Linked DNA regions of Homo sapiens: region 1 is linked to region 2. Evidence: fine-mapped expression QTL. A gene starts in region 2. The other region holds a variant in brackets. All regions are shown on one strand. Distances are between the middles of the regions.

Evidence for each region. PIP is the estimated chance that this variant, and not a neighbour inherited with it, causes the effect. A credible set is the group of variants that fine-mapping cannot tell apart.
Region 1: its variant is the best candidate, but not a certain one, in a credible set for the expression of PACC1 in CD4 T cells (BLUEPRINT, PIP 0.60).

The regions. Positions count from the first base shown.
Region 1 is chr1:212,336,886-212,342,267 of GRCh38, reverse strand. PPP2R5A (protein phosphatase 2 regulatory subunit B'alpha) reads right to left here. Exons shown (of 13, transcript NM_006243.4): 4 at 1-80. Among named protein-coding and RNA genes, the nearest start is that of SNORA16B, 13 kb to the left of the region's middle. The variant A/TA (reference allele first, on the strand shown) is at 2,276.
Region 2 is chr1:212,412,697-212,418,078 of GRCh38, reverse strand. It overlaps PACC1 (proton activated chloride channel 1), which reads left to right and starts at 3,193. Exons shown (of 8, transcript NM_018252.3): 1 at 3,193-3,357. The coding sequence starts at 3,322. RefSeq lists a silencer at 3,482-3,541.

The sequences.
Region 1 (5,382 bases), 76 kb after region 2:
TTCTGATCAATGTATCGTTTTGCAATGCTAGGCTGGAAATCAGGGCTCTCCAAAAATCTCAAGAAGAATTCATATACCAACTATGAGAGAAAGTCAAATAAAGGCTAAGATGATGGCTACAGAATATTACCCTAAATAATCACTTCATATTAAAAACACACCTTTTCTTACCAACTTAGTGGGGAGATTTCAGATCTCATTATAAAATGTAATGAGTTGATAAAAAAAATTTTTTTTAAAAATTCACACCTGTACTCCCAACACACTTTAGGAAGCTGAGGTGGGAGAATCCCTTGAGCCCAGGAGTTTGAGGCCACCCTGGACAACATGGTGAGACCGCTGTCTATACAAATAATCAAAAAATTAGCCAGGCATGGTGGCGTATGTCTGTTGTCCCAGCTACTGGGAGGCTGAGGTAGGAAGACTGCTTGAGTCTGGAGGTCAAGGCTGCAGTTAGCCGTGACTGTGCCGTACCACTGCACTCCAGCCTGGGCAACAGAGTGAGACTCTGTCTGAAAAATAAATAAATAAATAAACAAACAAACCTAGAAACTATATATTCACCATTTGGTTTCCTAAGCTGATAAACTTTGAGATTTATTTATTGCTTTACATAACTTGATGCAAAACGTTAAATTACAGGAGCTAGAAAATAAGGACAATGCCTATAAAATTAAATATTTCTTAATTAAATATATTCCTATTTTGTAATCCATACTCACTAGGAAGATGTTCCTTCCCAGTGGACTACTACCTACCTCAATTTAATCACTACAGAGTTTCTTAAATGCAGAGTCAACAACCTCCAGATAAAACAGGCAGTGTATCATTAATTTTTAAAAAGAAAGGAAAAGAAAAACTTCTGGTCTTTCTATAAAACTACAGTGGGAAAACTAATTAAATCAAAACCAGGCATATCCTATCCACACTTGAGAAATAATGAACCAAATTACGTAAGTACAGGGCTAGGGAAGAAATGTCTGTGTACCAACCACAGCAAATAAACTAGAAGTCATAGCAGGCCTTCTATAAAAGTGCCAAGCAACCTACAAGTAATAGCAAATGTTCACTTGCTACCACAAATCAGAATTAAATATTTGGTTCAGCTTGTCACTATCATACCTGCTTTCAAGGAGAAAGGCAAATATGACTAAAGTTTTTTTTTATTGTAACCTAATAGGTATAAAAAGCAGAAACTTAGCCCAAAATGTATCTTATTAGCTATTAAACAATACTATATCAATTTAACACCCTAAAAATAAAAAAGGAGGATTCTATCCCAAAGCAAAAACAGTCATTCAATGAACATTTAGGTAGCCAGTTAGGTTGATGTAGAAGTTAGAAAAGAAAAAGGGAAAAGAAAGATTGCTACATTAAATTAATAGACCTTAGAGCAAACAAAAGCACTACCAGATCTAGGCCTTATCATTCACCAAGTAACAACACATTTTTACTACTGTGAGTTCAGTAACAGTCTACAGCTAACAAAAGTTTGGGGATCTGAGCAAATACAATTTTGCTTGATGTATCTCTGCCCAACTGTGGAAAAGGAGTGATGCTTATCTGGTCTAATGTTACCTAACATTTTGTGTTTATCATAAATTAAGGATATAACAAGAAATAAAACTTGATAGCAATTTAAGTTTTTATTCATAGATAATTTTCTAATCAAACAACAATAGAGATAAAAGATAATTTTGCTTTGGGGTATACACGTGCAAAAAGATATACAAAACTGATCACAGAGCGCTCTGAAAAGTCAGCACAGTCTCATGGACTGCTATGCAGTTTCATTAACGGCACAACTTAATTCATTCAGTGCCTATTTTCATGTCCAGTACTGGGCTATGTATAGTATGAACAGACATTAGGGATGGTATGGCTCAAAAAGCCCATTCACTACACAAAAATTATATTATGTGGCACAGACTATAAGTGCAGGAGCTATTTAGAAAAGGGCTGTATCACTGTGGAATAGGTAGGAAAAGCTTTAAGGAGGATATGCAACTTGAGCCCTGCATTTGTTTTGATTCTAGATCCTTTGTTTTGATTCTGGATCCTCAGGAAGAGGATGGCTTTTATTTTATAGAAATGTAGCAGCATGTCTTGATTTAAAAATATATATATTTATTTATTTTTAGAGACAGAGTTTCACCACGTTGCCCAGGCTGGTCTCGAACTCCCAGGCTCAAGCTATGCACCCGCCTCAGCATCCTAACGTGCTGGTAAGGTGTAAGCCACCATGCCTGGCTTTTTTTTTTTTTTTTTTTTTTTT[A/TA]AGCAGCATGTCTTGAGATGAAGAGAATGCAGAGTATAGGTTGATGGTATGGAATTATAGACTCCAAATCTTTATGCAAATCCCTGGAGATTCCACCATAAGGTGGGATCAGGTTAAACATTAAACATGAGCCAAATGTGGCATGCATTAGCCTATTTACTCTCCCTTCTTAAGATCTTCATCAGAAATATAGGGTTTAAGGCTTAATAGTTTTCAGAGTAATAGCCTGTCCTATGGGAGACTTTTATGACATCAAGCTACAAATCAGACTGAATTCTCTAATTCTCTCAAACTGAATTCTCTAAACCATATATATAATTGAACCATATATATAATTGAAACCTGTGCCATTCACAAATACCACATATAAATTCTTTCATAGTTTTCATCTACATCATTTACCTGACACAGTAAACATTAGGTGATCAGTCAAAATTAGCAGCAAAATGCTGTTATGCCGCCAACTTAGCACCACTAAAGAGATGATGACAAAAAGTTACTTAAATACATATTGAGGTCCGGGTGCAGTGGCTCACACCTGTAATCCCAGCACTTTGGGAGCCTGAGGCGGGTGGATCACCTGAGGTCGGGAGTTCCAGACCAGCCTGGCCAACATGCAGAAATCCCGTCTCTACTAAAAATACAAAATTAGCCAGACATGGTGGTGCATGCCTGTAATCCCAGCTACTTGGGAGGCTGAGGCAGGAGAATTGCTTGAACCTGAGAGGCAGAGGTTGCAGTGAGCCGAGATTACTCCATTGCATTCCAGCCTGGGCAACAAGAGCAAAACTCCATCTCAGAAAAATAAATAAATAAAAATGATGAATAGTTATCCCAAATAGAGGTAGAAGAAACACTAGTGATCTACAGAGCTGGAAATCTTCAAAATGGAATAATTGAGATTATGCTTCTATAAAATTTATCCTGTCCCAGTGTCACTCTCTATTTACTCCATCCTACATTTTAAAAAATGTATCACACCGTAACATAGAATATATGCCAATTATTTTATTATTATTTTGTTCTTCTCTGCTAGGATGTAAGGGATTTTGCTTAGTTCATTACTTTACCCTCAATGTTTACAAAAATGCTTGACACACAATAGATGCTTACTGAATGAATGAAAATCACATTTGTTAAGAAGGTGTGTTTCTACGTAGTGACTGAAGTTTTTCTATGGTCTTGTTTTCTTTCTTTTTTTTTTTTGAGACAGAGTCTTGCTTTGTCGCCCAGGCTGGAGTGCAATGGCGCAATGTCGGCTCACTGCAACCTCTGCCTCCTGGGTTCAAGCCATTCTCCTGCCTCAGCCTCCTGAGTAGCTGGGATTAGAGGCGTGTGCCACCATGCCTGGCTAATTTTTGTATTCTTAGTAGAGACGGGGTTTCACCATGTTGTTCAGGCTGGTCTCGAACTCCTGACCTCATGATCCTTCTGACCTCATGATCCACCTGCCTCAGCCTCCCAAAGTGCTGGGATTACTGGGATTGCTGGGATTACAAGTGGGCGTGAGCCACTGCGCCCAGCCTTCTATGGTCTTCTATACAAATAACTTGCTCCAAGAATCTAAGAAACAGTGTTGCAAAGAAAAACAGGCACTTCACCAGTGAATTCAGTTCACTAATAAAATGACAAACTTCAACTATGTTCAATGTATGGCTAGTCCTTCTACTTCTGTACACCAAAAATACCCTAAAAAGTGAAAGATAACTAAAAAGTATAGGGAATTGAGGAGTGTAATCTTACTATTCTACTGAGTTCTGACCATGTCTTTCCTAAGGGAGTTAACATAAAACATAGAATTCTGGTCTTCACCATTAAAAAGACTTGGGAGAAGTTCCAACAGAAAACAGCATAGATGATTAAAGTATCTGAAAAATAAGACCTATACAAAAAGCTAAAGGAATAGAAATGTTTGGGTCAGAGAGGCAAAGACTCAGAAGCAAACTTTAAAGACCTACAAGTACCTAAGAGGCTGCTTTCAAGTAATACAGGTGACCAATGTTTTCCAACCTCTATTAAGAGGAAACGTAAATAAGGTTTTTAATTGATTTAATATATAAAAGAATTCATATAAAAATTAATGCATAGTCAACTATATGAGATATTATATATTAAGCACCCAAAAAGAACATTGCCTGGGATGAGGTAAACATTAACAAAATCTTAGTTTTTTAAGAATCTGTTTTTCTCTGTAATCCTTGTGAAAACACAGATTGTGCATAAACCTTGAATAGTTTAAATACAGGGAGCCTAGGTTTTTTCCCTCTGCTCTTTTATCCATAAGAACTAAAAAGATAATAACTATTCACAATGAAAAAGGCCAAAGCAATGAAAGTATTTCTCAACCTTATATAAAAGATATTCCTTTTTATTTTTGTGGCTATAAAGTTAGTGCATTAGGCTATGATTCCTACCATTTTGGATTCTTAGCCCATGAAAATATTTAAAATATAGTATATGGCCAAGAGTTATTTGAATGTAAAGGTGTACACTGTAATATATGTATGTTGCTAGTTTAAATTTCTAATTATATTGCCCAGAGAGAAAAGCCTTCTAATCCCTAAAATACAACTTATTCCTAAAAAGGTCTATGTTCTAGGCACTATCCTACATAATTAAATCTTAATTATCTGTGCCACTAAAGTAATTAATAAAAGAAAGTGAAAATACACAATCTGCCTGTATTCCAGGCTAGTACAGCAGCCAAGTGTCCTAATTATCTAAAAGTGCAGAAAATTAATATATTGTTAGTCTTCAATAAATAGAAAGCAATAATACTTAGGAAAGAAATGAGAAAATAATTTAAAACTGTTGTACATTAAGTTACCATGTAATACTACACTTAATAAATTAGAAGATACAACCTATCCCCTAATACTGAAATGACCTTCCTTGTGGTCCTTTCTTCTATCTCTTTTTATTCCATTATTCCATTGCTCATTAGTATTTCCATTACAGTGTAAGAATAAGTAAAAACAGATAAACTTTTATTAGCACATGTTTAGAAAATTCATGAAAAGGGTGGGGAAACAAAGGCTTGAAAGGTTTTGAGATTACTTGTAATTACTCCCTCATTAACAACTAATGTTTATTTTCCACCCTAATAA
Region 2 (5,382 bases):
TGGGGGAACACAAGTCAATTATAGCAGGAATCTTTAGGGTATAGATGATAATTCAAGCCATGAGGCTAGAGGTGACCACTTCACTAGCCCCTACGGAGTGAATAGAAAGGAGGTGGAAAATCTAGCTTTGGGGCTGGGCGTGGTGGTTCTCGCCTATAATTCCCCCAGCACTTTGGGAGGCTGAGGTAGACAGATCACTTGAGGTCAGGAGATTGAGACCAGCCTGGCCAACATGACGAAACCCCGTCTCTACTAAAAATATGAAAATTTTAGCCAGGCATGGTGGCAGGCACCTGTAATCCCAGCTATTTGGAAGGCTGAGGCAGGAGAATCACTTGAGCCCGGGAGGCAGAGGTTACAGTGAACCAAGATTGCCGCACTGCACTCCACCCTGGGTGACAGAGCGAGACTCCATCTAAAAAAAACCAAAACAACAACAACAAACCTAGCTTTGGGAAAGTCCGCCCTGTAGAGCTGAGATGAGGAGAAGTCAGCAGAGAGGCTGAGAAAGAGCAGTAACTGTAACTGTAATAGGCCTGTTGCCTGATGTGTGCAGCAAGTCAATATGCCAAGACGGAGTTGCAGTAGAAAAAGAGGCTTACCAATAGGGCCTCCAATCGAGGAGATGGAGGGGAACCTCAAACCCTCTCTCAAGGAGTTTGCGGCTTTTCTAAGGGTTTTTAAGGAGTAGGCTGAAGTGTGGAGACTGCTGATTGGCCAAAGGGAACAGGGTGAAATCATTGGACAGAGAGAGAAGCAGCTGTATTCTCATGCTGATTCCATTCCTCTGTTGGTGTCTTCAAACTTGTTGGTGTCAGCTGTTTCACTGGAATTTGTGATCTGAAAAACATTTTAAGCAATTTTTTTTTTTGAGACAGAATTTTGCTATTGTCGCCCAGGCTGGAGTGCAATGGTGTGATCTTGGCTCACTGCAACCTCTGCCTCCCGGGTTCAAGCGATTCTCCTGCCTCAGCCTCCTGAGTAGGGAGGCTAGGGAGGCTGGGATTATAGGTGCCCGCCACCATGCCTGGTTAATTTTTGTATTTTTAGTAAAGATGAAGTTTTACCATGTTGGCCAGGCTGGTCTCGAACTCCTGACCTCAGGCAATCCGCCCGCCTCGGCCTCCTAAAGAGTTGGGATTACAGGCGTGAGCCACTGGGCCTGGCCTTAAACAATTCTTAAGCAAAAGCCTTATGATTCCAATGTCAGAAATCCTACCTGTAGGAGCAGTGGAGATGCAAATGGTCAGTATCTAGTGCTACATGACTTTTGGCTACAAGGAAGTGGGTCAAATTACAGCCTGATTAATGCTTAATTATAACTCTATTTCTGTGCAGAATTCGTGTTAACCCTGTGAGGATGGCTTCAAAGTGAGGTAGGAGCAAGCCGGGAGTGTGTGGTGTCCTGGAAGCCAGGGAGGAACGCGTATCAAGGAGGAGGGAGGATCAGCCAAGTCCACTGTGGCTGATAAATCAAGAAAGAGGAGGATGGGAAAATGGCCATCTGATGTGACAACACTGAGGTCACTTGTGACCTTGACAAGCACTGTTCCAGTGGAGTGGAGGGGAGTAAAGCCTGACTGGTGTGTGCTCATGAAGGAATGGGAGAGAGGACTTGGGGGCTGCAAGGACAGAACATTATTTACATGTTTATGATCTGTCTCTCCACAGTTGCATGAAAGAGCCACGAAAGCCAGGACCCAAGGGTATCTTATCCATTTCTGTATCCCAGTGCCCAGCACATTGTATTTGTTAAGCCATATTTTATATTTTATTAGCCAGTATCTCCTTCAAATGTGGGAGCCCATAATTTTCCAGTTTGGTCACACCAACAAAGACTAGAGAGGAATGACAGGGTTGGAATAGAATTCTCTGGTTCCTTCCAGCTCTAATATTCTATGATGGTGTGAACTTGTTCTATCAAGTACCATTGTATTAACACAGTAAGGAATTTAATTAGTGGTCTGCTATTGTTAATTTGTTTTGGTAAGCAACTGTTAAATGAAATGGCTGGAATCAGTGTTCCATTCATAAATTTAACAAACATTTGTCGAGTGCCTACAATGTGTTAGGCACTATATATATTGTCCCATATAACAGATTTAAGAGCAGAGGGCCTAGGATAGGGGTGAGTGGTCAGGAGAGGTGATGGGGACCTCCCATTGCTAATGCTCCAGGAGGTCCAGGGTTCTTTGATGTGGCTGGCACTATTCTGCTTATCACTGAGGAGAGAAGAGGCTCCCAGTGGCCTGAGTGGAGGGGTTACCAAGCTGCAGCTGCAAGGGACACAGAGCAGCATTCACCAAGGCACAACAAGCAGCCTCTATCTGCTTCACCACTGAGGAGCCGAGGGCCCTCACACAACAGCTGTTTCAGGCAGTGGGAGGAGAGGAAGATGTGGTCTTCAGGTCCACCCTGCCACAGGGCCAACACCAGATTTGACGCCACATCTAGCGCTTGAGGCTTCTTCTGTGGCTGAACAGCGGCTTTAGGCTTTCTCTGCACGATCCTTCCTTTCTGCTTTCATAGGCCTTGTCAGGCAGGGCAGGGTTTAGCAGTTGCATTCTAAGGCGAGGAGAGGAGGGCTCAGAGCATTGCAAGACCTAAAGGGGAGGGTCAGAGCCAGGACAAGAACCTAGGGGTACTCCTGCCCCTGGAATAATGGAGAGAACATGGGCTCCGCAGTCTACCCCTGGATGAAATAATCTTCATTTGATTACCGCTCCACCCGCATCCTTTCTGAAACAAAGTACCTCAGTTTCCTCATTTGTAAATTAGGGAGAAAAATGTCCTTCTTACAGGGTTCCTTGCAGAATCAACGGCATAATGTGAGTGAGAGCGCTTTGTAACTAACATACAAAGTGCTCTCCAGACATTTATTACCGTTTTAAACCGCCAGGCCAAGCTTCCTCTTGCAATTATAGATTAGGGGCTCCTACTCATCTGACTTTGTTCCACTTTCCACTCCTCTTCTCCGTCCCTCCCCCTCCAACAAAGAGAGGAAGTGAGAGACGCAGAGGCACGCGTCTAAGGACCAGCTTAGCTGGCCCAGGGTCACATGCAGGCCTCCGCCACAGGGGTGAGAGCTGGTGTGAGGGGCGCCCCCGCCCAGAACTACATTTCCCATCAACACTTTCGCGACTCCTGGGCGGCAGCGGCCAGGCGCATGCGCCGAGTATCGCCACGCCTGGTCTCTGGGACGCCCCTCCGGACCGGTTTCGCCTCGCGGAGCCGGTAGGTCCAGGTGCAGCGGCCGCAGTGCTGCGTCCGTGCGCCGCGGGCTGGGGCGGTCTCAGGTGTGCCGAAGCTCTGGTCAGTGCCATGATCCGGCAGGAGCGCTCCACATCCTACCAGGAGGTACGAGGTTGTGAGAGACGGAAGGGAAGTTTGAGGCGGAGGAGCAGGGTCCCGGGGGCCTGGGCGGATGCGGGGCGGGGGGTGTCGGGGCTGCGCGGCAGAGGGCTCTTCCGAGGGACCGACGGGTGCGTCAGGGGAGGGCTCCCGGGGTGCAGAGGAGCGGCCCAGGGGCAGGAAGGAAGCGGGGCAGCGGAGCGGGCGCCCAGCGTTCTCCGTATGCTGCGGGTTGCATGGCCGAGGTCCGGAGTAGGGTCCCCGGCGCCGCGACCCGTAACCAGCAGGTGAATGATTGAAGCTACCTGAGGCCCAGCCTTCCGCGCTCCCCGCCGGAGCGGCAGCCCAATGGCCCAGAGGAACCCGGCGTTCTTTGCAACAAGTGGAGCGCCCGCGCCCTCCTCCCGGCGAGATCTGATGCGCGGTCGGCATCGTCGGCATCCTCCCCCTCCAAGCCCAAGGCCTCGCTGTCCCCGCGGCTGGTGACAGGATTGATTACCTGTTTTTTGGTGACCACCTAACTTTGAAAAAGTGCCTTCATGGACTCTGCTAGTTCTCGCTCCTCTTCGTCTCTCCCTCCAGTCTCACCTCCTCCCACGACTTTATCACTTTCCAGTTCTTTGTCTCTTCTCTGTCCTGCGCTGCAGGCTGTGCGTCCAGCGCTTCCTTCAAGCAAGCCCTGCCTCCTCACTTCTCCAGCTGTATTAGTGAAACTGCTCTCCTCCTCCGCCTCCACTTCTCGGCCCCCAAACCTTGGTCATCTTTGGCAACCGTCCTCTTCTGTGCCCCTCCATCGTGCCGCCTCATTGGCCAAAGTCAGGCAGTTCCAGGTCGGTCCTCCTCCAGTTTGTGTCCCTGTGTTTGCTGTAACCTCTGAGTGCGATACTGTGTTACCATCGCTCCCTTTAGTCTCTTATACTCTCCAGATTTGCCTTGAGGCCCTGCCTTCACCTCGGAGCATTCCTTTTTTCTCAGACCTGACGCTGCCCTTCGTCTGCCCAGAACAGTCCAGACTTCTCAGCAGGCTCCCAAAGCTCTGAACAGCACAGCAGCCATGTCTCCCATTACCTTTGCCACCTCCTAACCCACCTAGGGTCTGGCACAGTGGAAACTCAGTTTTAAAATGTGCTCCTGCCTCTGTGCGTGTGCTCACTCCATTCCTTCATCAACGCTCCGCCAAGCTCCATTGGGTAAAATGCCCCCAGAAGTCAAGGGCTACCTCAAGTTCCATGTGTTCCATAGGGGTCCGCTTTCCAGACCCGTCTGCATTTCTGTCTGTCCTTCTCATAATGAACTTGCTGCCTTCTGTCTTAGTCAATAGTTACTGCTGTACATATCTCCCTTTGTAAAAGACTGATTCACAGAAGGGCTTTGTGGACTATATAAAGCAGGTGGCTTAGCCCTACAGTGGAGGGAGAAGCCAACTTGAAGGCAGATGAGATTTGCCTAAGGCTTGCCATTTTTTAGTGTAGGATCTTGGCTGGAATCTGGCCTTGGACAGATTTCTATATTTCTCCTCCCATCCCCTTTATTCCATCTGTTTCCTTTGTCTGAAAGGAGTCTGAGGGATTTTAACCAGTGCTGTGGATTCCATGACCCCTAGATTCTGTACCCTAAACAGTGGGGGAATCCTGGGGAATGAGATGTGTCTGAAAGTTTTTAGGTTTATAGGGTGTGGAGCACAGTGGATAAAAGTCAGAAAGCCCACGTTCGTGCCTGGCTGTGCCTCTTGCTGTTTGTGTGACTTTTATTGAGTCACATAACTTTCTGAGCCTCAGTTTCTTTGTCTGAAAGATGAAGATAATAAAAGTCCCTACCTCCCAGGGTTGTTTGGGGATTAGATAAGTTGGTGTGGAAAGCGCTTGGCTCAGTGTCTGGCAAATGGTGACCCCACAGTGAATGATAGCTCTTGTTAACGGTGTGGGCAGCTCCTGCGTCCAGGATGCTTTGGGGTCCTGGCTTAGCAGGAACATGTGCCTCACCATCCACACATAGCCAGCCTAGCAGGGCTTATAAAATGTTTATTAAAAT